Homo sapiens: one gene and its partners. The protein of the gene in region 5 purifies or fractionates together with the protein of the main gene of each other region. This does not show direct contact. Each region holds a gene or a part of one and is shown on either strand. Other genes may lie near its edges.

The links.
Region 1: the proteins of CT45A5 (region 5) and EPB41L5 purify together in Homo sapiens (affinity purification with mass spectrometry, with the first as the bait; one large-scale study listed by BioGRID). This does not show direct contact.
Region 2: the proteins of CT45A5 (region 5) and ARMC8 purify together in Homo sapiens (affinity purification with mass spectrometry, with the first as the bait; one large-scale study listed by BioGRID). This does not show direct contact.
Region 3: the proteins of CT45A5 (region 5) and GLG1 purify together in Homo sapiens (affinity purification with mass spectrometry, with the first as the bait; one large-scale study listed by BioGRID). This does not show direct contact.
Region 4: the proteins of CT45A5 (region 5) and ANKHD1 purify together in Homo sapiens (affinity purification with mass spectrometry, with the first as the bait; one large-scale study listed by BioGRID). This does not show direct contact.
Region 6: the proteins of CT45A5 (region 5) and PPP4R3A purify together in Homo sapiens (affinity purification with mass spectrometry, with the first as the bait; one large-scale study listed by BioGRID). This does not show direct contact.
Region 7: the proteins of CT45A5 (region 5) and DACH1 purify together in Homo sapiens (affinity purification with mass spectrometry, with the first as the bait; one large-scale study listed by BioGRID). This does not show direct contact.

Annotation. Positions count from the first base shown.
Region 1 is NC_000002.12:120,089,014-120,093,661, forward strand, and holds part of EPB41L5 (band 4.1-like protein 5), read left to right. Parts: intron 1-1,333; coding exon 1,334-1,503; intron 1,504-2,541; coding exon 2,542-2,648; intron 2,649-4,235; coding exon 4,236-4,263; intron 4,264-4,648. UniProt on the Homo sapiens protein: Plays a role in the formation and organization of tight junctions during the establishment of polarity in epithelial cells.
Region 2 is NC_000003.12:138,189,834-138,194,481, forward strand, and holds part of ARMC8 (armadillo repeat-containing protein 8), read left to right. Parts: intron 1-4,648. UniProt on the Homo sapiens protein: Component of the CTLH E3 ubiquitin-protein ligase complex that selectively accepts ubiquitin from UBE2H and mediates ubiquitination and subsequent proteasomal degradation of the transcription factor HBP1.
Region 3 is NC_000016.10:74,491,543-74,496,190, reverse strand, and holds part of GLG1 (Golgi apparatus protein 1 isoform 3 precursor), read left to right. Parts: intron 1-1,359; coding exon 1,360-1,431; intron 1,432-3,050; coding exon 3,051-3,234; intron 3,235-4,648. UniProt on the Homo sapiens protein: Binds fibroblast growth factor and E-selectin (cell-adhesion lectin on endothelial cells mediating the binding of neutrophils).
Region 4 is NC_000005.10:140,537,392-140,541,056, forward strand, and holds the end of ANKHD1 (ankyrin repeat and KH domain-containing protein 1), read left to right. Parts: coding exon 1-198; intron 199-694; coding exon 695-870; intron 871-1,527; coding exon 1,528-1,692; intron 1,693-1,967; coding exon 1,968-2,027; 3' UTR 2,028-2,458; downstream 2,459-3,665. Other genes in the region: ANKHD1-EIF4EBP3 protein, read left to right, coding at 1-198, 695-870, 1,528-1,692. UniProt on the Homo sapiens protein: May play a role as a scaffolding protein that may be associated with the abnormal phenotype of leukemia cells. Isoform 2 may possess an antiapoptotic effect and protect cells during normal cell survival through its regulation of caspases.
Region 5 is NC_000023.11:135,778,275-135,782,922, reverse strand, and holds part of CT45A5 (cancer/testis antigen family 45 member A5), read left to right. Parts: intron 1-1,187; 5' UTR 1,188-1,193; coding exon 1,194-1,362; intron 1,363-3,281; coding exon 3,282-3,530; intron 3,531-3,911; coding exon 3,912-4,005; intron 4,006-4,648.
Region 6 is NC_000014.9:91,475,811-91,479,310, reverse strand, and holds part of PPP4R3A (serine/threonine-protein phosphatase 4 regulatory subunit 3A), read left to right. Parts: intron 1-2,324; coding exon 2,325-2,402; intron 2,403-2,786; coding exon 2,787-2,903; intron 2,904-3,344; coding exon 3,345-3,500. UniProt on the Homo sapiens protein: Regulatory subunit of serine/threonine-protein phosphatase 4. May regulate the activity of PPP4C at centrosomal microtubule organizing centers.
Region 7 is NC_000013.11:71,471,675-71,476,322, reverse strand, and holds part of DACH1 (dachshund homolog 1), read left to right. Parts: intron 1-473; coding exon 474-617; intron 618-1,113; coding exon 1,114-1,182; intron 1,183-4,648. UniProt on the Homo sapiens protein: Transcription factor that is involved in regulation of organogenesis. Seems to be a regulator of SIX1, SIX6 and probably SIX5.

The DNA of each region.
Region 1 (4,648 bases), on a different chromosome or scaffold from region 5:
TTTGCCCTTTTTCCACCACTTTTATTTTTAGATGACATATAATAATTGTACATATTTATTGCATACAGAGTGATATTTTGATACATGTATACAATGTGTAATTATCAAATCAGGGTAATTAGCGTATCCATCTTTACTGTCTTAATAGTGTCTTTAAATAACCTGAAAAGTACCAAAAATTATAAAATAGATAACCATCTTATTAATGATCTAGATTTAACATTTTTTACATTTTGCTTCAGTTCTCTTTTAGAGAAAGATAAATACAATTATGTGCATGAATAAATAATACCAACTAAAGTCTAACCCCCTGACTACCTACCCCCTTTCTTCTGGTACCTGGTCACCAATTTTGGAGGGTATTATTCTCATATATATTTTGTAACTTTTTCCAAATATTAACTCATGTTAGAATTGTTTTAAAAACTTGCATAATTATATATATTTGCAGCTTGCCTGTTTTATCTAAACGTGTACCTATGTAGATCTAACATATATATATGCTATTGTGTAATATGAATAAACAATAGCACATTCATTCATTCATCATTTATTCATTTATCCCTCTGCATAATTTTTTACATATGCCTCTATTTACTTGACCATTTCTCTTTTTTTGGACGTTTAGGGTTTGTACCAAGTTTTACTATTATAAATGAGACTGAGGAAATATACATCTTCATATATAACTTTTGATGTTTAGGAAATAATTTTCCCCAGAGAGGCAGTATAACTTAGTTGTTAGAGGTGTATGTAGATTCTGGAGCAAGACTAATGTTTAAGTTCATTTCCGGTTTTCTTTCTTAATAGCTTTGTGATTTTGGGCTTAATTTCTTTGAGCCTCAGTTTCCTTATCTATGAAATGGGGCTAATGATAGTATCTACTCATTGAGATAATTTATGTGAAATCCTTAGAAAAATTTCTATATGAATGTTAACTATTATAATTAGACTCATGGCAGTGTGATTACTATGACAAAAATGTGAGCATTTTTAGGGCTGTTGATGCATACTGCCAGATCTGATATGATTCCTCAAATTATAATTATACAGTTATCCCAAATAATGGCAGATAAAATCTCATTTTATGTCTCTCTCACAAATGAGATCATGTAAGTAGAGGGGAATAACTCCTAGGAATAATTTTGTATTGGCTGATAAAATGAGCAACTTGATTTCAGCTCTGCCCTTATTATGTTGATACTATAAAGAGTGTCTGAATTTCAGGGAGCACACTAGATCCTTTATTCATGGATGTGTTTGTATCTCAGAAATAGGAGATAGGACTGTTTGAATTAGTAATCATCCTTTTATATATACTTTTCTTTTTCAGGGCAAAGAACAGGAACATACATTTGTCTTTAGACTGGATCATCCAAAAGCATGCAAACATTTATGGAAATGTGCTGTGGAGCATCATGCTTTCTTCCGCCTTCGAGGCCCCGTCCAAAAGAGTTCTCATCGATCAGGATTTATTCGACTAGGATCACGATTTAGATATAGGTTAATTTTAATTGCTGTTTTATCTGTCTTTCATTGCATACAGGCCAAAAAATTTAGGCCAATCTTCTCTTTTTTACAGATATGGTAACTAAGGTATAGAGGAATAAGGTGGTTTGCCAGAGTCTTCCATTGGCCAAAATAAAATAGAAAAAGTGGTATTGTTATTGGTTATAATTTCTTGAATAGATGCGTAAACAGTAATTGTATAATGGCTTTTATATCCCTCTGGATGTTTACTTTATATATTAACCCACTCCCAGTTTATCTATTTAACAAGAGTTTTATGGACTCTCCACCCACCACTGGATACCATATAGAAAAGGGTTTCTTGCACTGAATGGGATATTAGTCTGGATAACATTTGTGGTCCTTTATAAACCTGAAGGTCATTATTCTCATGACTCCTTGTTTGTTGTCATGAGTTAGAAATGTTTTGGTTTACTGCAGAGTGGATTATTGGTTGTGAGTTTTCTGCATGCCATGGAAATCAGTTAAAGAAGGAATGGATTGTACCAATAATGTGGCCAGTTGATTGTGTGGAGTTAATAGAAGTAGTACTGTAGTCTACTTATATTAAAAGTAAGGAGGCATTTTCTAAACAGAATTTAAATGGAAATCAAGGAGAATAAGACAGTAGTCTTAAAAAACATTTCTGGAAAATTATACTGAAAAGTGAATATCACAATTAGAAAAAGTAACTGAAAATATTCTTTTAATTACACACTTTGCACTGAGGAATGTAGATGGGAAAGAGAGGGAGTTTCCATAAAAGGACAGATATTTCAAACTTATTTAATGTGTACTTAGGTGATATGCATGCATATGAGAAAAATAAAACCAACATAATCTGTTGCATATTTCACAAAAGCCGAAAGAATGATATGGTAAAGAGAGAGATCGAGACTATTAGTAGCTGTTCCTGTGCGATGAAGTTTAGGATGATTCTTTTAAGGAGAACCTGAATGTGGACTGTCTTATTTGTGTGTGTTTATTACTGTAGACCTAAAATTTCCCTTACTTCTGTTATGCCTCATTTAGTGGGAAAACAGAGTATCAGACCACAAAAACCAATAAAGCAAGAAGATCAACATCCTTTGAAAGAAGGCCCAGCAAACGATATTCTAGACGAACTCTACAAATGAAAGGTGAAGTGCAACCCTCTTTCAAAGGATTATTTTTCCTTGGCAATTAATTATGTGCTGGTGTTGTTTCCATAAGAGGAAGTTACCTGAATCTCCTCCTCAGGTCTGTTCCAGTCAACTAAAGTACTTTTCTGGCAGAATCAATTTCATGGGATACACAGAGAAAAATTGCCTGTATTGTTAGCAGAGATTAAACTTTATGTTAATCCCAATTCAAATGATAGTCTGAGGTTATGTTCAGTTTTTGTATACAAAACTGTTTCTGTAGAGCAACATATTCTCTCCCTTTTTGACTTACAGATCTCATTCTAAAACATCCCTTAATCCCCTTAGGAATTTTTAAAAACATTTTTATTTATTTATTTATTTATTTATTTATTTATTTATTTTGAGATAGTCTCACTCTGTTGCTCAGGTTGGAGTGCAGTGGCATGATCTCAGCTCACTGCAACCTCCACCTCCCAGATTCAAGTGATTCTCATGTCTCAGCCACCTGAGTAGCTGGGATTACAGGCATGCGCCACCACTCCTGACTCATTTTTGTATTTTTAGTAGAGATGGGGTTTTGCCATGTTGGCTGGGCTGGTCTTGAACTCCTGACCTCAAGTGATCCACCCACCTTGGCCTCCCGAATCCTAAAAGGATTACAGGCATGCCTGGCCAAAACATTGTCTTGTGATGAATTTTTTTTAAGTAAAATTTATTTCATATTGTATTATAATATTAAGGATTGTATTAAATACCATTTTAAAATATATTCATCATTGTTATACATAGACATTTCCTAATTCATAATTGTTACTTGCTGATTAAGATCAGTTATATAAGAAAAAGCACTATTTACCTTGACAAATAAATTAAACCTTGTGTTTGGTTTTAAACTGAATTTGCATTAAAATGAATTTGCATTAAAATGCAAATTTAATTTTAAGTATTTCCACTGTCAGAGTCATCACCAGTTGTCCAAAAACAGCTGTAATGATCTGATGTTTGGCAGTATTGACTTTTTTATAAAAATGATTTATACTCATAAGTTTTGGTGTGGCTGTAAATTAAATATACAGCTATAAATGAATTGTGATGATTTTAAAACCCTAAGTTTCCTCTTGGTTTCCACTGATGATAATTCATAATCAGTCAGCTCACTCTGGAGGCTTACAGATTGGTTCTGTTTAAAAGGAGGAGATATATATGCATTGTATTGCTTTATTTGAAAAATGAAAATAATTGCCATTGTTGCCTCTATGGTGTGAATCCCAAAACACTTTGGTGAATTGAAGGTTTTTAGATTTATGGTTGGGGCCAAATGTGGTGGCTCACACCTTTAATCCCAGCACTTTGGGAGGCCAAGGTGGGAGGATTGCTTGAGCCCAAAAGCTCAACTCTTAGGAGTTTGAGACCAGCCTGGGCAACAGTAGTGAGACCCACCCCTATCTCTACAAAATCATGAAAGACCCTTTCTCAAAGAAATAAATTTATGGTTGTGAAACATGGCTTGTAAAGCAATTAGTTAAAGTTTTGCTTTGAATAGTGCAGCAGTTTATCATGTAAGATGAAACTAATGAGGTGTTATCTTTTTTCTTCTGTTAGCATGTGCTACAAAACCTGAAGAACTTAGGTAAGTAATGTTTTGCAACTTAGGAATTGGTATAGAATTTGGGATTTATGTAGTTGCTATCATTAAACAAATATTTAAGACCTATCAAAATGTCAAGTTGTCCGTAAAGCACCAGGGATATGTCAGGGAATAAATGAACATGTAATGCCAGATAAAAGTGACATGATGAAAAATTAAAGCAGTTTAAGGAAGTAAAGAATGGGGTCGAGGCAGATGAGCCATTCATAAAGAGAATGACATACCTTTGTTATTGGCAAGTGGCTGAGGATCTTAAGATAAATTATGATCCTTATACATAAGAAGCACAAAGGAGAAAGGTTGATTTGCAAATAGGCAATTTTCTTCCTGGGATAAATCCCACTTGGTTGTGGTGTATAGACCTTCT
Region 2 (4,648 bases), on a different chromosome or scaffold from region 5:
CCCATCGCTTCCAATAAAGCACATTCCTTCTCCTAAGGGGAATTAGTTATGAGTTCCCAATTTCTGTTAATGGTGTTATCTTTCACTGATAAGTAACTGTTAAACCTCCTGAATAATCTCTGATTCTTCCTCCTTTCATCCCCCTGTATCTACCAGTTGTTAAGCTCTGTTGCTTCTTTATTCTTAGTGTTTCTTATATCTTTCTCTTCCCATGACCACCCTCATTCAGGACTTTGTTGTTTTGTGCCTGCACTACCACAGCGTCCTTTTAATTATTTTTACTGTCTTTAATGTCTTACACTCTCAGTGCAAGTCCATGTCTACTTAAATTTTCCTAAAGAACTCTTCCTACAGCCGCTCCTCGGTTTCTTTTCTTGATTGAATTTGTTTTGCCCAAAGGCCCAAGTTTATATTCAGCTTCAGAGTTGAGATTCTTTATTTTCTTATCTTTTTTTTTTTTTTTTTTTTTTGAGATGGAGTTTTGCTCTTGTTGCCCAGACTGGAGTGCAGTGGCGCAATCTCGACTCACTGCAACCACCGCCTCCGGGGTTCAAGCGATTCTCCTGCCTCAGTCTCCTGAGTAGCTGGGATTACAGGCATCCACTACCATGCCTGGCTAATTTTTTTGTATTTTTAGTAGAGACAGAGTCTCACCATGTTGGCCAGGCTGGTCTCAAACTCCTGACCTCAAGTGATCCACCCACCTTGGCCTCCCAAAGTGCTGGGATTACAGGTGTGAGCCACTGCACCCGGCCGAGATTCTTTATCTTCTACATGAACCTGCTATCCTGTATAAACCGGCTTTCTCAGGTTAGAGTGATACAGAATTCTTCCAAACTCCAGTAAATCTTATTCTTCTTACTCATTTGTACATATGAATTTTAACTTTGTATATATATATTCTGTACATCTACTTTGAGCTTCTGCCATTTGCTAGGCAAGCATGGTGTTGAGTTTGGGAATACAGCCGTAAGCTACACAGACCTCTGTCCTTTTGGAAATGTTAGCCTAGTGGGAAAAATAGATATCAAATAATCACACAGTTTGTGAATGGTGATTAGTATTATGAATGAAGTATATAGGGTGCTGTTCAAAACATGTCATAGAGGAAACTGATCTAATATGGAGGGCAATAGGAAGAACTAGGGAAGGTTTCCCTGAAGAAGTGATGCTGAGCTGAAAGTTCAAGGATAAGTAAGAACTAACTAGAAAAAGTGACAGAAGAAGAGCATACAAGGCAAAGGGAACTGCTTTTGCAGAGGTCTTTAATAATACTCTATCTTGTCGTATTAGAGAGTAAATTAATTCAGAAGTAACACTTTGTCTTGCAAATCCTAGGTACTCAGTAAATGTTTGATTGAACTATCTATTTTGGAGGGTTGGACAAACTCTCCAGCCCTGTTTCTAGACTGCACTATGACCACCCCATCCCTCTTTGGTTTGCATTTAACATTACAACATCACCCTTTTCAACAAATTCATAAATTTCTGCAATGTTTTCTATACTTTTGAATTATGTTGATTGCATTTTTAAAAACATTTATTTTGAAATAATTATAGATTCACAGGAAGTTGCAAAGATAGTACAGACAGGTCCCTGTGTACACTTCACCCAGTTTCCCTCATAGGTTACATCTTATATAGTTACATTATAGTATCAAAACAAGGAAATTGATCTTGGTATAAGTATGTATCTGTTTCTGTATCATTTTATCACATGTTTATTTGTGTTACCATTACCACCACTGTCAAGATACAGAACTATTCCGTCACCGCAAAGATCTCCCTCATATTCCCTCTTTATAGTCCCACCTACCCAGCCTCTCCCCGCAACAGGTATCCCTAACCCCTGGCAACCATAATCTGTTCTCCATCTCTATAATGTTGTCATTTTCTATAATGTCATATGAATGGAATCATACAGTATGTGACTTTTTGAGGTTGTTTTTTGTCACTCAGTATAATGCTTTTGAGATCTATCCATATTGTTGTATGTAGCAGTAGTTCCTTTTTATTGTTAAGTAGTATTTCATGGTGTGGATGTACCACAGCTCGTTTAACCATTTACCTGTTGGGCGTTTTGGTTGCTTCTAGTTTTTGGCTATTATAACGTAGTATGAACAATCATGTACAGGTTTGTAAGGACATAACTTTTCATATCTCTGAGCTAAATGCCCAGGAGTGCAATTGCAGGATCAGATGGTAAATGCATGTTTAATTTTAAAATAAACTGACAAACTTTTCCAGAGTGGCTGTACTATTTTACATTTCTACCAGTAATATATGAGACATTGTTTCTCTGTATCCTCACTGCCATTTGATACTGTTATTATTTTTATTTTAGCTGTTTTAGTAGATGTGTAGTAATATCTCATCATGGTCTTAATTTGCATTTCCCTAATGATTAATAATGTTGAGAATATTTTTATTATTTATTTATCCTTTTTTTTTTTTTTTTTTTTGAGACGGAGTCTCCCTCTGTTGCCCAGGCAGGAGTGCAGTGGTGTGATCTCAGCTCACTGCAAGCTCCGCCTCCTGGGTTCACACCATTCTCCTGCTTCAGCCTCCTCAGTAGCTGGGACTACAGGTGCCCGCCACCACACCTGGCTAATTTTTTATATTTTTAGTAGAGACGGAGTTTCACTGTGTTAGCCAGGATAGTCTCAATCTCCTGACCTCATGATTCACCCTTCTCGGCCTCCCAGAGTGCTGGGATTACAGGCTTATTTATCCTTTTGAGACAGTCTTGCACTGTCACCTAGGCTGGAGTGCTATGGCGTGATCTCAGTTCACTGCAACCTCTGTCTCCTGGGCTCAAGCAATCCTTCTGCCTCAGCCTTCCAAGTAGCTGGGACTACAGGTGTGTGCCACCATGCCTGGCCATGTAGACGGGGTTTCACCATGTTTCTCAGGCTGGTCTGGAACTCCTAAGTGTAAGCCATACTCCCAGCTCAGCCTTTCAAAGTGTTGGGATTACAGGTGTGAGCCACTGCACCTGGCCTGAAAATCTTCGCTTATTTGCCATCCATGTTTTCTCTTTGGTGAAATATTTCTTCATGTCCTTTTGCCCACTTTCTAATTGGAGTGTTTGCTTCTTTACTGTGGTGTTTTAAAAGCTCTTTATAGGTTTTATTTTTATTTTATTTTATTTTTGATATGTGTTTCGCTCTTGTTGGCAAGGCTGGAGTGCAATGGCCTGGTCTCAACTTACTGCAGCCTCTGCCTCCCAGGTTCAAGCGATTCTCCTCTCTCAGCCTCCCAGGTAGCTGGGATTACAGATGCCCACCACCATGCCTGGCTAATTTTTGTATTTTTAGTAGAGATGGGGTTTCACCATGTTAGTCAGACTGGTCTCAAACTCCTGACCTCAGGCAGTCTGCCCATCTTGGCCTCCCAAAGTGCTGGGATTACAGGTGTGAGCCACCGCGCCGGCTTATCTTATTTTTTGAGAGAGTTTTGCTCTGTCATCCGGGCTGGAGTGCAGTGGTGTGATCTCAGCTCACTGCAACCTCTGCCTCCCAGGCTCAAGAGATTCTCGGGCCTCTGCCTCCCAAGTAGCTCAGATTACAGGCGTGTGCCACCGCGCCCAGCTAATTTTTTGTGTGTATTTTTAGTAAAGATGGGGTTTCGCCATGTTGGCCAGGCTGGTCTCAATCTCCTGGCCTCAGGTGATCTGCCCACCTTGGCCTCCCCAAGTGTTGAGATCATAGGCGTGAGCCACCGTGCCCAGCCAAAAGCTCTTTATATGTTTTAAATCTGAACCCTTTGTAAGATAGGTATTTGCAAATATTTTCTCCTAATCTGTAACTTGCCTTTTCATCCTCTTAACCACAATTTAAGATGAACCTTGATCTCATACCTTATACAAAAAGTAACTCAAAATGGATCATAGATTTTATCATAAAATAAAACTTTTAGAATAAAACAGGAGAAAATCTGCAGAACCTTAGGTTTGGTGAATAACTTTTAGACATAACACCAAATGCATTACTTATTAAAAAATTGATAAATTGGACTTTACCAAAATGAAAACTTACGCTCTGTGAAAGACCCTGTTAAAAGGATGGTTGCATTTAATTTTGGTCACTTTGTAATGGTAGAGAGGTAAGGTAACAAATTGTCTTTGAATCACTTTGTAGGCTATTATAAACAGCTGGGCACTTGTTGATTTTTAATTGTCTTCTTTACAGTCCTTTCCCAGTGGCATTACGTCTTTTTTTTTTTTTTGAGACGGCGTCTCGCTCTGTCTCCCAGGCTGGAGTGCAGTGGCGCGACCTCAGCTCACTGCAACCTCCGCCTCCTGGGTTCATGCCATTCTCCTGCCTCAGCCTCCCGAGTAGCTGGGACTACAGGCACCCACTGCCACGCCCGGCTAATTTTTTGTATTTTTTAGTAGAGACAGGGTTTCACTGTGTTAGCCAGTATGGTCTCGATCTCCTGACCTCGTGATCCGCCCGCCGCGGCCTCCCAAAATGCTGGGATTACAGGCGTAAGCCACTGCGCCCAGCTTTTTTTTTTTTTTTTTTGAGACGGAGTCTCTGTCGCCCAGGCTGGAGTGCAGTGGCGCGATCTCGGGTCACTGCAACCTCCGCCTCCCAGGTTCACACCATTCTCCTGCCTCAGCCTCCCGAGTAGCTGGGACTACAGG
Region 3 (4,648 bases), on a different chromosome or scaffold from region 5:
GTTCAAGCGATTCTTCTGCCTCAGCCTCCCAAGTAGCTAAAACCATAGGCAAGCACCATCTTGCCTGGCCAATTTTTTTAAAAATTTTTTGTAGAGATGGGGCATTGCTGTATTGCCCGGACTGGTCTTGAACCCCTGGCCTGAGGTGATCTCCTCCCTCTGTCTCTGAAAGTACTAGGATTATAGGCACGAGCCACTGTGACTTAAATATTTTTTAATACTCTATTCTAACGTAAAATAAGCCATCAAGAAACCTCACATGTAGAAAAGCCACAGAAATGGAAGAAGAAATTGGTCCCAGTATAGCAGAAAGTGGTAACTGGATGCTCAACCTTGATGACTGAACATTTGGTTAACAGCTGGCTTCTAATGATCTCCACTTAGTATTTTTTCTGCTTTATCTCACTTCTCAATTTCAGTTCTTGGAAGTCTGTTTTATCTATAGGAATTTTATTTTACCCAGGATCTTATTTACATCTATTCAATGGCTAAAACTTTGACGCATTATATATTTATGTGTTTTTGGCTAAGGTGAAGAAAACAGCAGGTGGCTAATCTTTAAAACCAAATCCTTGATTACCACCTGCTGACTCTACAGAACAGCCTTCTAAGTCTTTAAATAGAATGGTCTCTCCATCCTTACAACAAAGTACTGAAAGTAACTTGTGTACACTTCCACTCTGCCTGCTGGTTTGCATTAACAGCTTTAACCATCAGAGCCACTGATGTAAGAGTTTCGTTAACTCTAGCATACACTTGTAAGAAAGAAGACTCAGAGGCTGGGTGCGGCGGCTCACGCCTGTAATCCCAGCACTTTGGGAGGCCGAGGCAGGCAGATCACTTGAGGTCAGGAGTTCGAGACCAGCCTGACCAATATGGTGAAACCCCATCTCTACTAAAAATAAAAAAATTAGTTGGGCAGGGTGGCGGGGGCCTGTAATCCCAGCTACTTGGGGCTCTGAGGCAGGAGAATTGCTTGAACCCAGGAGGCAGAGGTTGCACCGAGCTAAGATTGTGCCACTGCACTCCAGCCTGGGCAACAGAGCAAGACTGACTCTATCTCAAAAAAAAAAAAAAAAAAAAAGACTCAGACTCTAACACTTCTCTTGGTTCCCTAATTAACAAAATACATCTGAGAACAAATGACAAACTCCAAATATCATGGGAATATTTTTTTCGTCTTTACTGCAGTCACTGTTTTTGTTAAAAGCCTATTAAATTTTATAAATGGAAGCGCTGTTTGTCCAAAGGTATGTACGATTATAATCGTTTAATAGAAAGCTCTATATGAGATTGTGGATAATGTTCAGCATAACTATTTAGCTAAAGTAATAATAATGTGTATGTTCCATCTTATAGACACAAGCTGGTGAGGGCAGAGTGTATAAGTGCCTCTTTAACCATAAATTTGAAGAATCCATGAGTGAAAAGGTAAGTATTATTTTGAAACTAATGAATGTTTTATTTGTTTTTTAAAAGCTTTCTCAGCCAGACACGGTGGCTCACGCCTGTAATCCCAGCACTTTGGGAGGCTGAGGCAGGTGGATCACGAGGTCAGGAGTTCAAGACCAGCCTGGCCAAGATGGTGAAACGCCGTCTCTACTAAAAATACAAAAATTAGTCGGCCGTGGTGGTGGGCGCCTGTAATCCCAGCTACTCGGGAGGCTGAAGCAGGAAAATCACTTGAACCCAGGAGGTGGAGGTTGCAGTGAGCTGAGATCGCACCACTGCACTCCAGCCTGGGTGACAGAGTGAGACTCTGTCTCAAAAAAAAAAAAAAAAAAAAAGCTTTCTCAATTTCTCTGAAACAATATTTCTTATAATCTTATACCGAAACGTAAATGACTGATAAAGCTCACCGCTTTCAGAGGTGAGGTACTTGGGTTTTAAGCATATTTGGCTGAAACCAAGAAAATGAAACCCTGATTGTGATATCTAGATAGTGAGAAGCCAAGTAGGGTTCTCACTGTGGTGGTTTTTTTAGGTGTTTTTGTTTTGTTTTGTTTTTGTTTTTTTTTGAGTGGAGTCTTTCTCTGTCACCCAGGCTGGGGTGCAGTGGCATGATTCGGCTCACTGTAGCCTCTGCCTGCCGGGTTCAAGCAAGTCTCCTGCCTCAGCCTCCCTAGTAGCTATGACTACAGGCACCTGACAACACGCCCAGCTAATTTTTGTATTTTTAGTAGAGACGGGGTTTCACCATGTTGGCCAAGCTGCTCTCAAACTCCTGACCTCAGGTGATCCACCCGCCTCTCACTGTGGTTTTATATAAAATCCTCAGTGTGATTTTATATAAAATTCTCAGATATTACTTTGTTTGGGGAGTAAAATCAGAGAATTTTATATAAAACCACACTAAGGCCAGCCCTGCCTCCTCAAGAAGTTTAGGTTAACCAAATCAATGTGCTTTCTAGGCAATTAGCTATTTAATTTTTCAGCAGCTATATCATTAAGCATCCTCTTTTAGTTCTTTGTCCCTGAATGAATGCAAGAATAGTTGATGGCTTTTGAAATAATTAATTTTGCTATCTTGTCATTTACTTTCCTGTGTAGCTGAAGAAATGTTTCTCATTTCCTTTTTCTTGTATCATTTGAACAATCTTATTCAAATCTTATTATTCAGATGATATAGAATAATTGAATAATTGTATTTTAAAGCATTGAACAGAATATCCCAAATGTTATGTTAGTTGCCAGTTTGATGCTAGTGAAATTTATGTTCGGGGTATTGTTAAAGTGGAAAAGAATGCTGTGTGTCAAGTTAACATATTGGGATCTGTGAGATATTTACATGTTTTGGATAGCTGCTATTGCAGCAACAACTAGCAAGTGACTACAGAATTTCTAGGTTCCCCACCCACTTACCCCTGTCTCATGCCACACTAGTTTAGCTCAATTGTGAACATTTTAACCAAACTTAAAGATAGATATGTTGGTAATAACTGCAGTTGTTGACATGTACTTGGCTGAGTCGCTGTGCTCATCTTAGTGGTACACGTCAACAGTAAAGTTACATGAGTGGTCTCACGGCTGTTGCTGTACTCTTTCCTCAGTGTCGAGAAGCACTTACAACCCGCCAAAAGCTGATTGCCCAGGATTATAAAGTCAGTTATTCATTGGCCAAATCCTGTAAAAGTGACTTGAAGAAATACCGGTGCAATGTGGAAAACCTTCCGCGATCGCGTGAAGCCAGGCTCTCCTACTTGTTAATGTGCCTGGAGTCAGCTGTACACAGAGGTAGCATTCATATTTTTTTTTTAATTATCATTTCTGTTCCTTTTTGGATTCACACTCTAAAGCTTTATATATATAAACGTTAGTTTCCTCCCATATTTGCTTCTTTGAGTATTTTTCTTTTTTTTTTTTTTTTCTTGAGACGGAGTCTCTCGCTCTGTCGCCCAGGCTGGAGGGCAGTGGCGCAATCTCGGCTCACTGCAAGCTCCGCCTTCCGTGTTCACGCCATTCTCCTGCCTCAGCCTCCCAAGTAGCTGGGATTACAGGCGAGTGCCACTGCGCCTGGCTAATTCTTGTATTTTTAGTAGAGATGGGGTTTCACCATGTTGGTCAGGCTGGTCTCGAACTCCCAAACTTAGGTGATCCGCCCACCTTGGCCTCTCAAAGTGCTTGGATTATAGGTGTGAGCCACCGCACCTAGCAATTTTTTTTTTTTTTTAATAGAGATGAGGTTTTGCCACGTTGGCATCCCGGGTCTCAAAACTCCTGCCCTCACGTGATCCTCCCACCTTAGCTCCCAGAGTGCTAGGATTACAGGCGTGAGCCACTGTGCCCAGCTGAATAGTTTTCTTGTCTTTTCTTTTTTTTTTTTTTGAGACAGAGTCTCGCTTTGTCACCAGGCTGTAGTGCAGTGGCACAATCTCAGCTCACTGCTACCTCCGACTCCCTAGTTCAGCCTCTGGAATAGCTTGGATTACAGGCACGCACCACTATGCCCAGCTAATTTTTGTATTTTTAGTAGAGATGGGATTTCACCATGTTGGCCATGATAGTCTCGATCTCCTGACCTCGTGATCTGCCTGCCTCGGCCTCCCAAAGTGCTGGGATTACAGGCGTGAGCCACTGCGCCTGGCCTAGTTTTCATTTTTGAAATACACATTGTGCAACATTTTGAGGAGACTCAGGGTAGCATGATTTAGCACATGGGTCAGACTTGGCTTCAAATTTTGGCTTTATCACTAAACAAACCGTCTGGGTGACCTGTTTTTGTTTTGTTTTGTTTTGTTTTAATCTTTTTGTTTTAAGTTTTCCTGGCCAGGCGCGGTGGCTCACGCTTGTAATCCCAGCACTTTGGGAGGCCGAGGTAGGCAGATCACGAGGTCAGGAGATCGAGACCACGGTGAAACCCCGTCTCTACTGAAAATACAAAAAAATTAGCCGGGCGTGGTGGCAGGCGCCTGTAGTCCCAGCTACTTGGAGAGGCTGAGGCAGGAGAATGGCGTGAACCCAAGAGACGGAGCTTGCAGTGAGCCGAGATCGCGCGCTGCACTCCAGCCTGGGTGACACAGTGAGACTCCGTCTCAAAAAAAAAAAAAAAAAAAAGTTTTCCCCATTGGCATTTACAGCTCAAAGAAGTTGGGGGAGCTTATAGTGAATATCTTAAATGTAGTCTTTTCTAAAAGCTTTAATTGTGTAG
Region 4 (3,665 bases), on a different chromosome or scaffold from region 5:
CTTCTGCCCCACCAACGTTGGGCCAACCAAAAGGAGTCAGTGCCAGTCAAGATCGAAAGATACCTCCCCCAATTGGAACAGAGAGACTGGCCCGAATTCGGCAAGGAGGGTCTGTTGCACAAGCCCCGGCGGGGACCAGTTTTGTCGCTCCCGTTGGACACAGTGGAATCTGGTCATTTGGTGTCAATGCTGTGTCAGGTACAATTGCCTTGCTCTCTCTCTGGAGGGATATCTTAAGTAAGCTGTAGGTTTGCCATTAAAACTTAGTTCCTTAGAAAAAACAAACAAAAAAAACTTAGTTCCTATGTTTAACACTCAATTAGGGAAGGGTGTTTATATCTTTGAGGAGTTCAGTCCAATTTCAGAGTCTGGAATATTGGTTGAGGTAATACATAGAGTTAATCAGAAACAAAAGATTCAAAGTGTGTGTCCTTTCTCTCTTAAATAATCATTTGAGTTCTTTCAGAGAGTACTTAATCTTTTAAAAGACAGGGTAAAGTGGAGTATTCAGAGGACTTTACCTAGTTTTTCAGGAACTGGTTTTTTTTGGCTAGCAAGACTGTGATAAATACGCTTTGAGCTCTTCAGAGGAAAGATTTCAGTAACATTTGGTCATGTTTGGTAATAACAATGGTAATGTTTTGTTGTTTTATCCAAATAAATTTAAAACTTTGTTTTCAATTATTCTTTCCAGAAGGCTTATCAGGTTGGTCGCAATCTGTGATGGGGAACCATCCAATGCATCAACAATTATCAGACCCAAGCACATTCTCCCAACATCAGCCAATGGAGAGAGATGATTCTGGAATGGTAGCCCCCTCTAACATTTTTCATCAGCCTATGGCAAGTGGTTTTGTGGATTTTTCTAAAGTGAGTTGACAAACATCACTGTAACTTGATTGACACTTTGTCAGCCAATGTAGTCACATTAAGGAATACCTTGTATTGAAATAATGCTCCCTTTTGTTTCTGTGGCTTTGCTAGATCTTTTGCTTAATTTCAGGAGTGCACAGAGTTGTCCACAGTAGTTTGTCCTGAAGATGTCCCCATCCCCCGAAAACACCTGAGGGATTTGGGTTTTGCCACTTTGTGCTCTGCTACTACAGCTTTGAGGGAGGCCTCTACCCCTCTTAAAAGCTGGCCATGAGTTCACTGATGCTTTCTTGTCTGCTCTGACAGCTTTATGTCGGCAATCAATTATGTAGAGTTCCCATTTTCTTCTTAGCTCAAGCTTATTCATGAAACTAAAATATGGGAAAGTTGAGGTTATTTTTATCAAATATGAGAAATTTCCTGATGATTTCATATTGGATTTAGTTTCTTTCTCTCTCTTGTTTTTTGTTGAAAAGCTTTGCAGATGCAGATAAACATTTTGTTTTCTCAACACTGCCATACTGTACTTATAGGATCTTTTGGAGTTCTTTAAATGAGGAATATTAGAGAAGTCTAAGCTGGTATTATGGGATTTATAGTAATTTTATAATTTATAGTAATTTTAAGATTAAATCTTTTTTCCTGCTGTTTTAGGGTCTGCCAATTTCCATGTATGGAGGCACCATAATACCCTCTCATCCTCAGCTTGCTGATGTTCCAGGAGGCCCTCTGTTTAATGGACTTCACAATCCAGATCCTGCTTGGAACCCTATGATAAAAGTTATCCAAAATTCAACTGAATGCACTGATGCCCAGCAGGTAAAATGGGCTTAATGCTCTTTTGTTTTTTAGATTTGTCACATCATTCTTTTTGTTTTGTGAGAAGTATAAGTACTGAATATCAAAAGTCATAATTGACCATTTCGATCTGGATTGCTTTTTCAATATCAAGATGATGCTACTGAACACTTTATTTAATATATGTGTATTCTTCCTAGGCAGAAACAGTGAATTGCCATTGCATTTATATATTCATTTTGTAACTGTCTAAAGATTCCTAATTAGAAATTCCAATTTTTCCTCCCCCTTTTCAGATTTGGCCTGGCACGTGGGCACCTCATATTGGAAACATGCATCTCAAATATGTCAACTAAGTTAGAAGGTCTTTACTCTTTAGCCTTGTTTAAGAAACCTATGACCTTGGAAGAACCATGGGGATTTTTTTTTAATGTGCCTAAGAAATTTTCTCTGAGGCTTTAGCAATGGAAATTTGATTGCCCATTGTATAAGAACAAATTGATTTCCTATCCACCTGATTATGTTCTCTGGTTAGTTTAGCCATTTTGAACTTAAGATCATATGACCTTAGTGCTTTTGGCTAAACATACAGAATACTACTTGTATGCAGAAGAGAATTAGTTGATTACATGTTTCAACCTTTTAGGGTGATAAATACATGTATAATTGTTTACATACTTAAAAGGAAAAAGTTGAGTAAATTTCTTGTCATATAGTGGCTCTACGTAATGTAGCCTGTATTAATGTGAAATATTTACCAGAATATTCAATAAAAAGATGAACAGTCTTTAGAAGTGGGGTGTGATCCTTTCAGTGGTCATGCAGGTACCACTCAATCCACATTATATTGAACCAGATGGTTAATACTATATTTGTAACAGGCTTCTCACATTTAACACTTGAGTCCCTTCTTAGACTGCCTTAAAAAAGCACTTTTAAGACTATTTACCTATTTATTCTGTGTTAAACATTCCTTGTTCCCTTGTTGTCTTCCATAATCCTTTAACATATGAGAAAGTTTCAAGCTCTGGCAATGTGTCTTATCTGACTTTAGCTAGCAGATAGGCCACTGATAGGTTTTTTCTCTATGGATCATGAGAATGTCAATAAGAACAATTGGATTTAAATCAGATGACACTAAACAAATGTAGGGACACCCAAATTATCAACTTCAGGTTCCTTCTGTGCTTCCTGACCTTTTTTATCTGAAAGATTTGTCTGGTTATAGATATTTTAAGCTTTATATGAGTTGGGACATAAGGAGGTGACTCCTGTCATTCTGTTGTATTATTGAATCAGCTGAGTAATATTTATAAATATGTGAGTAATTCCAGGCTTAGTTCCATGGCCCTAAGCATGGAGAGTCAATATGTTTAACAAGCTAAACAGAGGAACCCTGGAATGGGCTGCTTTGGCCAAACCATAGGCTATGCCGAGAATCAGCATAGAGAAGGAAAAGTTATCCCACTGAAAAGTATAGTCATCAACTTATTTGTGTTTTAATATAGCTGAATTTTTCCTGGTCAGTATAGGCAATACAGAAAAGAAAACAAGAAAATGTTTGGAGCTGATGGAGAAGCCAAAACTCATATCAAGGCAAAGAAGGATGCACAGAGAAAGAGTAGTAACTAGGGACAGAACTATATTAGCAGCACCTTTCTACGCTTATGCCAACAGGAATTCTTAATTTTCTCTGCCCAGGTCCTAAAGCCAGGACCACATCAGACACACCATGTTTGTTCTGTGTCAGATATACCTGCTTCTTTAATCTTCTATATCATCTTACATATGAGAAAGCTTCCTTAATTAAGCTTATGTCTTATGTTTTGTTTTGAATGGATTTTGAAAGTGTTGTTTATTGAAGCTACTACTTTGTAGTGATTGATAACCACATCAAGTATCATTAAGGGGCCCCTTGACCTTTGTGGGGGCAGTTGGGTGGGGCACAAAAGACTCCTTGGATCACCTGTGTATCTTGCTGTTTCCACTTACCA
Region 5 (4,648 bases):
TATTCATTATACAGAAATGCCATTGGTTTTCATTGTATCTAGTAAGTTGACTAAATTTGCTTATTAACTGTAATGATTTTATTCTTCTGCATTTTTCTATGTACAGAACAATGTCATCTGTGAATAATGACAGTTTTATTTCTTTCCAAATTTTAAACCTATTGTATTTTCCTGATGATATGGCACTTTTTGGAACCTCCAGTAAATTGTTGAATGGATAGTGGACATCTTTGTCTTGTTTTCAAACTCAGGGAGAAAATACTGATACGTCACTATGAAGTATGGCATTTAAAAATTTTTTGTACATATGCTAACCAGAATAGGAAAGTTGCCCTTTTTCCTAAGTTGGTGATAGTTTTTATCACGAATGGACTTTAAACATTGATCCATGTATGAAAATGATCATGCGGTGTTTCCCTGTTTTTGTTGTTGTTGTTGTTGTTGTTGTTAATGTGGTGCACTACATTTGTCGATTTTCAAATGTTAAATCAGTGTTGCCTTTCTGCAATATACTCCACCATGGCTGATGTATGTCCTTTTTAAGTACTAGTACATTTTATTTGCTCACCCTTAGTTTGGAATTTTTGTGTCTAAGTTCGGGGTGATCTTGGCTTGTATTTTTGGCTTGATCTTGTAGTTTTTCATTCTTCTAAATTCCTTGTCAGATGTTGTTATCAGTTTTGTATCAATCTTCTAATAAGGGTTCCTAATAAGGGTTAATACACGTTGGTTTATGCATCTATTTGAATATATAAGCATAAATACTTATATATTAAATATATATGATATATAATATATAATTTAAAATATAATGTATAATAAGGGTTAATACAGATTGGTTTATACATCCATTTTTTCTAATAAGGGTTAATACAGATTGGCTTATACATCTTCAAATAGGTAATAATATTTTTATCTATTTTTGGTTGATGACAGCTGCTTATTCCACAAGCATTCTGATTGATTTGGTTATACCATCTTTCTTCTGTTTTACTTTGTGTACATTAAAATTAGGTTTCTTTTCCTGAGAACAGAGTGTTTGTTGAGACTTGGTAAATCTTGGCTCATGATTAAAAGTGAAATTAATGATTCAAAGTCTTGGTTGTATACACATATGCAGATTGCTTGCCATTTTGTGATTGTTAGATTTTTGTCATGAATAGAATATATTCATTGATGTTTTTCAGGAAACAATGACCGATAAAACAGAGAAGGTGGCTGTAGATCCTGAAACTGTGTTTAAACGTCCCAGGGAATGTGACAGTCCTTCGTATCAGAAAAGGCAGAGGATGGCCCTGTTGGCAAGGAAACAAGGAGCAGGAGACAGCCTTATTGCAGGCTCTGCCATGTCCAAAGAAAAGAGTAAGTAAGCCTGTCCTCACGTCCTCCTCATGCTCCTGCCTCATCCCCTCCAGAGAAACTGTCCTTGTCAAGGTTAACAGTTTCGGCTGACATTGCCATTAACTTCTCAGCAGCATTTGACAGTTGTTCACTCGCTTCTTCATGAAAACCTTCTAGGATTTCCATTTCCGACAATCTTTTTTTTTTTTTTAATTTCTTGTCCGTATTGGTGAATCCCTATCATTTTTTTCTTGAGATGGAGTTTCGCTCTTCTCAGCCAGGCTGGAGTGCAGTGGCGCGATCTCGGCTCACTGAAATCTCCGTCTCCTGGGTTCAAGTGATTCTTCTGCCGCAGCCTCCCGAGTAGCGGGATTACAAGCACCAGCCACCACACCCAGCTAATTTTTGTAAGTTTAGTAGAGATGGGGTTTCGCCATGTCGGCCAGGCTGGTCTGGAACTCCCCCCCTCAGGTGATCCACCCACCTCAGCCTCCCAAAGTGCTGGGATTACACGCACGAGCCACCGCCCCCGACCCCATCATTGTTTTTTTCTACATTTCTTTTTCTTCTCTTCTCTAAATACTGTAAAAAATTCCTGAACCCCAGCATCTCTCTCTCTCCTTCTATTCCACTCTGCCACGATCAATCACTGAGCTCCTGAGATACCTCCATGTTTCCCATTATTTCCCGCATCAAACACATACCCTCCAACCCTGCAGCCGGGTCATGATGTTGGCATGTAAATCACGTGATGCCATGTCGCTCCTGAACACCCATCCTCAACACTCCTAAGCACTCAGAACCGACTGCGAAGCAGCTTTGGTCTGCGAGGTTCTGCGTGGCCTGGCCTCCGTCACCCTCTCCTCACACGGGCCCCATCATCTCCTGACTCTCTCTGCTACTGTCCTTCACCCCATAGTGCCCGGTCCATCCCCACTCCAGCCCATATCCTTGGCCTCACCGCAACCTGGAACTCCCCCTCTGCCTCTGCGCAGGCAGCTCTGCTTTTTCCTTCAAGCCCTGCCCAAGGGTACCTCCACAGAAGGCTCTGCCCAACCAGCAGCAGCTCCTGGGGCTCCCTCTGCTGCTGTTGCCCACAGGCCTGTGGACTGCTTCCTTACCACTAGCCCAACACTGTATGTTTCATTTGCTCATTGTGCACGTACTGTCTGACCGCCCCATGAGGATGTGAGCTCCACAAGGGCAGGGAACGTTGCTCTCTGGGCTGTTTACTGCTGATCCCCAGCTACCGGCACGCTGCCTGCCACAGACGATGAATAAATGAGAGGTGTCAGACCTGGAGTGAAAAGAAAGTCACTTTTGTGAGAAAGAAAGGAAGGATGAGGAAAATCATACAGTAAAAGGGACTTTTTGGTGGTGGAGTGCGTATAGAACTTTTAGCAGTAATGGCCGCCTCTATTTTCTCAGAATGTGTTTGATATAACAGGAGACCGGTTGAGTTGTATCCCAGTTGCCTGGGTTCCAGCTCAGTAAAGCATGGCAGTTTGTAAGTGAATTTGAGAAATCATGATATCAAGTGAGACTTGCTGCTTTCAACTTGTAAAGCATAACAAGCTGAAACTGTCCCATGAGTACCAGGGATCTGTGAATGTTGCTTTAGAGTTGTACTGCCTTACTTGGTTTCCATGTCTATTCATAGGGCCAGAAAATAAGAGGTGGTTTTATTGTATTATGTGTCCTGGCCTCCGTTTGTCAGGCCTGGGATTTCTCCCTGGTGTATCCTCCCATTTATGAAATAAATAATTCCCTAGAAACTGAGGAGCACATAGATGTACCCAGAGGGGTGATGAAACACACATATCTCACAGCTCAGCTTCTCAGTTTGATTTCCAGAGCTGTCATTCATGAGGTCTATGTGGAGGGGAAAGAAAGTGGTCAAACACCAACTGATGGCTTTTACTCAAAATCTGTTTCACCAGAGCTTATGACAGGACATGCTATTCCACCCAGCCAATTGGATTCTCAGATTGATGACTTCACTGGTTTCAGCAAAGATGGGATGATGCAGAAACCTGGTAGCAATGCACCTGTGGGAGGAAACGTTACCAGCAGTTTCTCTGGAGATGACCTAGAATGCAGAGAAACAGCCTCCTCTCCCAAAAGCCAACGAGAAATTAATGCTGATATAAAACGTAAATTAGTGAAGGAACTCCGATGCGTTGGACAAAGTAAGTAATATAAGAATGTCTGTTTTATAAAACTATAGGAAGTCTCTCTTTCTATGATTCAGAAGATATTCATGTTGCCTGTTGAGTTTCATTCTTTGCCAGAGTTGAGATTGCACATAATTTATGGTGGTTCCTCTTTTCTTTGACTAAAGCATGTACATTTTTTCTTTTTCTTTTCTTACTTGGTTATGGTTAAAGGAGTTACATTCGTATGTATGTGCAGGTGTCTTTTTTATTATTTAGGTTTTGTATGTGCAGGTATCTTGATTTAAGCATTTAAAACATTTCAGCCTCTGAAGCATGATTGCTGAGGTGTAGATTCACTTCTATTCTTCTTTATATTTGATAATACTGAAGTTTTTTTTTTTTCAACATCTTCAGAATATGAAAAAATCTTCGAAATGCTTGAAGGAGTGCAAGGACCTACTGCAGTCAGGAAGCGATTTTTTGAATCCATCATCAAGGAAGCAGCAAGGTGGGTAGAAATAGGAACTGTCCAATTTCTTTAAGCACTTGGGCTCAATAGAGCACTGGGGGTGAGCGTTGGGGAACAGCCCCTGCCTTGCGTTTCTCAAACCCTGGTCCTCACTCACAGTTATGGCTGTCTCCACAGTTACTTAGGCTAATGTTATCTGAGTGTAACTCATTCTTCGAAGACTATGGAGACTTCCATTTTCACCATAGTCTGAGGTGCGCATTGTCCCTCAATTGACACTCTTTGTATTTGCTAGACTACCTCTTTTTAAAAAATTTGTGTAGGCACATAGCAGATGCATATATTTCTGGGCTATATGAGATATTGTGATACAGACAACAATGTGTAATAATCACATCAAGGTAAGTGGGGTTTCTATCACCTCAAGCTTTTATCCTTTGCGTTACAGAGAATACAATTATACTCTTCATTATTTTTAAATGTGCAATTAAATTATTACCGACTATAGTCACCCTGTTTGGCTATGAAATACGACATCTTATTTATTCCATACTTCTACGTATTAATCATCCCCACTTCCCACACCCTCCACCCCCACTAACCTTTGTAGCCTCTGGTAACTGTCATTCTACTCTCTATCTCCATTAGTTCAGTTGTTTTACACTTTTACTCCCAAAAATAA
Region 6 (3,500 bases), on a different chromosome or scaffold from region 5:
CACACACACACACACACGTTGTTTTTTATTCTTTGATGCCTGTGGTATTGTAAGAATAATAGGTCTTTGGGAGACTGAGGTGGGTGGATCACTTGAGGTCGGGAGTTCGAGACCAGCCTGACCAACATGGCAAAACCTCGTCTCTACTAAAACTACAAAAATTAGCCAGGCGTGATGGTGGACACCTGTAATCCCAGCTGCTCAGGAGAATGAGGCAGGAGAATCGCTTGAATCCAGGAGGCAGAGGCACATGCCTGTAATCCCAGTTACTCCAGAGGCTGAGACAGGAGAATCATTTGCACCTGGTAGGCAGAGGTTGCATTGAGCCAAGGTCGCACCGCTGCAGATAAGTGTAATATGACTTGGAAGATCTTTTAAGACTTTACCTCAGGTGTATAAGTAAAATTTATTTGAAACCTGAATTTGTTAAGTATAGAAAGGAAGACAATAAATGTAGTAAGAGCTGCCTGGTAGCACACATTACATATAAAGCAGTATGTTTAATCATGTCTGTTCCTGTTTAGAAAATTTTGTATTTCTAAAATATTAGCCAGTGATAGGCAAAAAAAGGAAAAGTATGAACTAAAATACTGAGTTCTCCTGATCCTTTTCTTTAGCTCCATATGGTTCTGTTTTTGTTATGTGGGGATTTGTCACTTCTGTGTTTTCTTGGTCTTCATACATGTAAAATGCCAGTTTTATTCATTAAGTATGAATAATTTCAAGTTGTTAAATCTTTGCTTCCCTGTAATGTGCTTTGTAAAATACTGGCTGCCAATATGTCTGTTTCTCTTGATGCTGGACACTTCTATCCAAAGTGCTGCTGTGAAGGCTGTAGCATTTTACAAATGTTTTGGCAAGAAGTGATTGAGGTACAGTTTAATGCAGGTTCCTGCCCACTTTGTATAGCCCCATGCACACAAAATAAATATCACACCCTCTTAACATTGACTGCTTCCTTTGTAGTACCATAAACATTCTTATTTTCTCTATTTCTGTACCCCCAACTGCAGCAGTTCAGAGAATGTCTTTTTTAACCATTTGATACCCATTTGGTAGAATATAGTATATTGGAGATGTGTCTTGAAATTGGATGCCATTTGGGTAGCAAACATGGTCAAGATCATATTAATGAGGTATGACCTATTTGTTCATTTTAGAAAAAGTAAAGGTGAGAATAACCAAACTAACTTAGTGCCACAGAAGATTTTTCTGGAGCACTCACAACAGTGAATGTGGAGCCAGTAATCTAGTGGGAGCTTGTATATACATCCATGTGTATGTGTATTTAGAGTGAGGCATGTCTAGGGCTTAAGTGGTATTGAATCTACTTCCACTAGCTGAGGTAGTAATTAAAATCTTGGTCGAGCATGGTGGTTCATGTGCGTAATCCCAGCACTTCAGGAGGCCCAGGCCAGTGGATTGCTTGAGGCCACGAGTTCAAGACCAGACTGGCCAACATGACAAAACCCCATCTCTGCTACAAGTACAAAAATTAGCTGGGTGTAGTGGTGTGTGCCTGTAGTCCCAGCTGCTAAGGAGACTGAGACAGGAGAATTGCTTTAACCTGGGAGGCGGAGGTTGCAGTGAGCCGAGATGGCACCACTGTGCTCTACCTGGGTGACAGAGCAAGACTCTGTCTCAAAAAGCAAAACAAAACAAAAGCCAAGATCTTGATGAAAAAATAGTGATGAGAAACATTGACCGGACAATCATGAAGGCTCTGCCACCTTAATTGGGCTTGGGTAAATTTTAAAATCCAAGTCTCAATTATAAAATGAGGAAGTAAAACAAAAAGTTCTAAATTTTGCTTTTTAAATAATTGAGTCATTCTCTGTATCTTTAAAACACTAAAGTAGCTTTGTCTTCATTTTCATTCTCATTTGAGAGGTTGTAGAACTACCTTTTAAAAGTTAATAAGGTTATAAAACCTATGAAAGTGAGGGGTCAGCAAGTGTTGGTCCTGCTATTTTTGTAAGTAATATTTTATTGAAATACAGCCATATCCATTCATTTCCAGTTGTCTGTGACTACTTTCATATTACTGGAGCAGGGTTGAGTACTCGTAGTAGAGATCACATGGGCCGCAAAGCTCAAAATATTTACTACCTGGCCTTTATATAGGCTTAGAAAATAGAGCCTTGACAAAATTTTATACTTTAATAGTGTGGTTTTTCCTTCTGTTAAAAAAAAAAAAAAAGACAGCATTGCCAATACCACCTTTCCTTTTTATAGTTATTGCTGTGTATATTAAAGCATTCCTGAAATTATATTTTAGGACAATCTTAGCATTAACATAATTGCATTTGTCCTTTGTTTCACAGGAAGATGAAAAATTTCTGACAGATTTGTTTGCACAACTAACAGATGAAGCAACAGATGAGGAAAAAAGACAGGAATTGGTAAGAAATTAGATACTATGAAAGGCATAAAAATAAAACAACTGGCCGGGCTTGGTGGCTCACGCCTGTAAATCCCAGCACTTTGGGAGGCCGAGGTGGGTGGATCACGAGGTCAGAAGTTTGAGACCAGCCTGGCGAACATGGCGAAACCCCATCTCTACTAAAAAGTACAAAAATTAGCCAAGCATGGTGGCGGGCACCTGTAATCCTAGCTACTCAGAAGGCTGAGGCAGGAGAATCGCTTGAACTCGGGAGGTGGAGGTTGCAGTGAGCCAAGATCGTGCCATTGCACTCCAGCGTCGGCAACAAGAGCAAGACTCCGTCTCAATAAATAAATAAATAAAATAAACTTTTTATATCACTTATCCTTTTTTCTAATTTCAGGTTAACTTTTTAAAAGAATTTTGTGCGTTTTCCCAAACGCTACAGCCTCAAAACAGAGATGCTTTTTTCAAGACTTTGTCAAACATGGGCATATTACCAGCTTTAGAAGTCATCCTTGTAAGTTTTGTGTCTCCTCATTTTTAATTACCATTTTTTAATCCCAAAATTAATATTTTTAATGCTACATGCAAATATTCTATTATAGCCAATATTTGAAATTAGCTGCGTAGTTCATTAAGTTAAAGAAGCTGTAAAATTCCAATATTAGACAGTTTTCACACAGTATTGAAAGAATGCAGTAAAGGAATTTCCCATAATTTAATGATAGTTTGTCAGCTTTGCAGCTTATTAGCTGAAATGTTAAAATAGGCAAACAAATAAATGATTTAGAAAGTATAATTTTATCCGTACAATAAGAGTTTTATATGCAGAAGAATTTCTTTGACCTTTCTTTTACATTGAAGTTTTTTCATATGTTTTGTTAGGTTTGGATATTTACATAGCTATAGGTTCCGTATTTTTATAAATACAGGAAAAATAAATGTTTTTTGTCTGCAGGGCATGGATGATACACAGGTGCGAAGTGCTGCTACTGATATATTCTCATACTTGGTTGAATATAATCCATCCATGGTACGAGAGTTTGTCATGCAGGAGGCACAACAGAATGATGATGTAAGTAAGAAGTTAACAGAGCAAAAAATAACCAGCAAG
Region 7 (4,648 bases), on a different chromosome or scaffold from region 5:
TTTCCAAAGCGTTTTTAGGGGAGATGCTCCATTTGCTGGTCAAAATTGATGCCCTATGAGGAAATAGGAAGGAGGCATGCTTATAAGCGTTTGCACTATCCAAATGACTCTGCACTATTGTGATTCAAGGACAGAGAACTAAGCCACAAAATTCATTTAATCAAGCTTCCTTTATCAGTGAATACAAACATTTACTAAAATTAGTTTCCTATTAAATTTATCTTTACATATGGCAATTAAAGCCATTCTTGTAATGTAATAGTTCTAGGCTAAAATAAAAATTGGCTTTCTTATTATTTTACTGGGAATTATTTTAGATAAAGGTGGAGATTTTTGGAACTTTCTTTTTATAGGTAGACTCAGTTCAGCAGGAAAACAAAATGAATAATATAAAAAATATAGACCATTTGGAAATTAGCAGCATTATGAAAATTTAAAAATAATAATAATAATATGCATACACTCTTTTTTAGCCATAGTTCAAAAGAGGCTAAAGAAGGAGAAGAAGGCAAAGAGAAAATTGCAGGAAGCACTTGAGTTTGAGACGAAACGGCGTGAACAAGCAGAACAGACGCTAAAACAGGCAGCTTCAACAGATAGTCTCAGGGTCTTAAATGGTAAGAGGGTGTATATTATTGCATGAATAACTGTCATTTTTAATGCTTAAAGGACAGTTTAGGCATGTGTTTGTAGTTTTGTATGTTTCTATATCTTGTGATTCATTCAGCTATACTTGAAGCTGAAAGCAGGGTGGGAAGAACGTGTTGGGGAAAATGCCTTATTTTATAGGTGCTTCCACTGTTTTTTACTGAACTCCAGCATCTGGGACTTGGCATTACTTCTCTGCTTAACCAGATTTTTTTCTACTGAAGCACAATAAAATAGTAATTTGAGAATTTCCGAACCCCATCCTCTTTTATGAACAATGTTGCATTGCTTACTGTTCAAATCTTCCGAAAATTCTTACGGTTACAGTTTTTGTTCAACCTTTAAAAGATGACAAAGATTTACGTAATTTTAATTCAGCACCAAAGTAACAGGTTGCTCTTTTTTTTTAAAGGACAATAGGAATCAAATGAAATATGTGTCACTCTTACCTTTCTGTGCTTTTAGACTCTCTGACCCCAGAGATAGAGGCTGACCGCAGTGGCGGCAGAACAGATGCTGAAAGGACAATACAAGGTAGGAATTTGCAGAAGGCTATAAATCTAGATCTTGCTATATGAGTTTTTCCTCAGCTTTAGCCTGCTATTCAAGCATGTAGCCTACCATCTGGGCCACATCAAAACAAGTTCAAACAAGGTCAAGTTCATCTTGCTTGTTTATATGAGTGAATTCATTTTGTGCTGATAGATTTTCTTTAAATTAACAGGTCATCTCTGTTTATACAATGCAATTAAAAGGAATAATTAATTTTAAACAATGTATGATTTAATCTTGGACACAGTAAATGTGCTTTATTGAATGTGTGAAGCCCAGTCTAATGCAGGAAGGGTTTATAAGTTCTGTGCTACATAAATAAAATATGTGGTTAATCAAATAGGTAGTTCTTACAATTTAAAAATGTCTAACTACTCATTTTTATGACAGTTACTGCAAGGTACCTGCAAAATAGACTAGTTGAATGTTAACAATAAATAAGACTGTTTAGTTCCTATGTGGATTCCAAATGTTCTGTATGCCATTATATACACTTTAATAACACAAATCTGCTGAGTAAAATCATATATAGCATACCAAAGGGAGTTGTATTAAATGCTCAGAAGAGCTAAATATGTATATTGTCATGATCGTACTATTAGAAAAGAATAAAACCAGAAGGTAGCATTTATAGGCAAACATCTATTCCAGACGACAAATTCAACCTAACAACATGAATACTAAACAGTAACAAGAGCATTTGTTTTCTATTTAAAATGAAGGTGATTCTTCAAAGGGATGCCTAAAATGATTAACTGCCATAATCCTCCCAATTGCTTTTATTCTGCATTTTAAACTCAATCATTTTTAGGATATCATATGACGTTAATTGTGTTACTTAATCAGCTCCAAATATGTCATTCTTGGCTTAGTGTAAAGGAAATATACTTTTGTAAACTATCATATGTGCAAGAAGTAACAATCACAAACTTGAAGAAACATTTTTGAGGAAAGAATGGATTTTTTTTTGCCTATATTTATTTTACCTGAGGCCATTCTAATTAATTTGTAAATCCTAAGGTTTGAATCATATGTTATTATGAGACATCTTGGATATACAAGATTAATGCTATTGTAGATATAGAAAAAGATCTGAATTTTTAGAGTACTATGGATTTCAGCACAATTATATTGTGTATGTGTTTGTATGTATATGGTTATGACAATTAAAAGAATCCTCTTGCATCTTATAAAACTTACATACACATGTTCAAAATTACTGTTAATGAAAAAACCAGTCCTCTTTATCAGGGACAATAGCACCAACAAGACAAATGCAAATATCAGCACCAATGTGTACATGCAGGGGCTATTCACGCATTAGATAATGTCAAAGTGGTCTCAGAAAGCACATGAGCCCATAGATAAGTGTGACATATAAATCATCTGATATACACAGAATCCTCAAGGTGGTCAGAAGTCAATCTAGAAAAAATTGAAACAATATCGTCCTGCATATAAATGAGAGATTCGTTGTTAATATTAAGAAGTGATTAAACATTTTTGTATGGTTGATGATATAATATGTATGCCACCCATAACAACATGTTGGTTGTTAATAAGGCTATGGTTATTTTTGTTTGAATTTGTCAAATTTACATATGTTCAAACATACATTTTAATATAGGTAAAGTCTTGCTGTATGAGGCTGAAATGTTGACAACTTTCAGTTTCCATTGTTGTGACTGACTTATTCTGAAGAAAAGTTTTAATCACAAATTGCTTTCCTTTTAGTATCCAGAATCTTACCAGTGGAGGAATACAGTAAACCTATGCACCAACAACTTAATGGTTAGGGAAACAAAACATTTGTACAACAATTATACATAGTAATTTAAAACCATATACACATTTTATGGAATTATTTTTGCCTTTAATTGTAATAGAAAATCCTCACTCACTTTATTCATTCATTCAGCCTGTCCATTGTTGTACTGGTCAAAATGTACAGTTGTTTTTTAATAAAACATACTAACTATTCATTATATTTATCAGATAATATGACTTTTCCCAAATTGTAATAAGAAAAAACACTGTCAATGAATCTGTTTCTAGCTGTTAGTTGCTAAAAGATATTTTACCAGCAGTCAAACTATTTCAAGACTCTTAACATAACAGAGCAAAGAGATCATATTTGCTATTCTAACACCCTATTCAATAAGCTTTATTAGCCCTTTGAAATTTTTTTCTAACCTCAGACAAAATTCATACATTTGGAAGCTAACAAACAGAATACAATTAACTGTGAACAAAAGCAATCAAAGAAAGAATACTGTATTTAGTTAAATGTTGTCTAAGGACAAGAAAGGGAAAGGCAAAAAAGAAAGAACCAGAACTCATTACTAATTTGTGAAACGGTCTATGTCATGCCTTTTGGGAGCCATGAGCACCTGCTGCTTCACAATTCAAGAATGACACACACACAGCCTCTCACACTCATCACTTTCTCTCTCCAACTGTCCCCAAGCCCAGGTGTTATGACATTCTTTGTATTATTTCTTGCTCCAAATCCAACCATAACTGAAATTATTTTCTATTCCAAAGTAAACTCAATTTATTGGGAAAGACAAAATAAGCCCACAGGTTTTTTAATTTTTTCATGTATTTTTAACATTTCTGGCAATAAATAAATGCCACACTTGGCCCAAGAGTTAGTCACCTAGAAGTTGGGCACTTAAATACTTACTGCTTGAGTGCTAAGTAATTACCCCTAAATATGCACCTCTGGGTAGACTAAATATTGCCTCATTGGCATTTTGTATCACCATTTCTATAAAACCACAGAGGTGGACAAGAGGAATCAAGAAAGTAGTTTAGAAAGTATTTCTGAAGAAAGAAGCCCTAAATAATTTACTTGCATTTTCTTAATGAAGTAAATCAGCTCATAGTACGCAGGGTAGATTCTTTATTGCTGATTTTCAAATAACTAGGAATTCATGAATTGTAAAAATGCTATAAGTACAGAACAGACATTCAAAAATTTTAAAAAAACTTCTTCCAGGAACTGAAATATATGGCCATTAACTCTCTTATGCCTTATGTCACACAGATTTATATGGCATGATTTGTGTTGGACTTTGAAAAATTTACCCTACTCAAGAATTTCTCTAAGATCTTTTGAATCTATAAAGTAGACAGAGTTCATAAAAACAATCATCGAGCAGTGTTTTGGGCCAGTCAGTAAATATCCCTCAAAACCCCTCTGGCCCCTACACATATATATGCACATACGCGTACATTTTATGTAGCCAAATCTATAACATGATGGCTTTCTTCAGCTAAGTCGTCATCTTATTTTATTCCTTCTCCTTAGGCAACAGCATCTACTTTCATAGTTTCCTTCTTTTTTCTTTTTCTTTTCTTTTTTTTTTGAGACAGAGTCTCACTCTGTTGCCCAGGCTGGAGTGCAGTGGCACCATCTCGGTTCACCATAACCTCCACCTCCTGG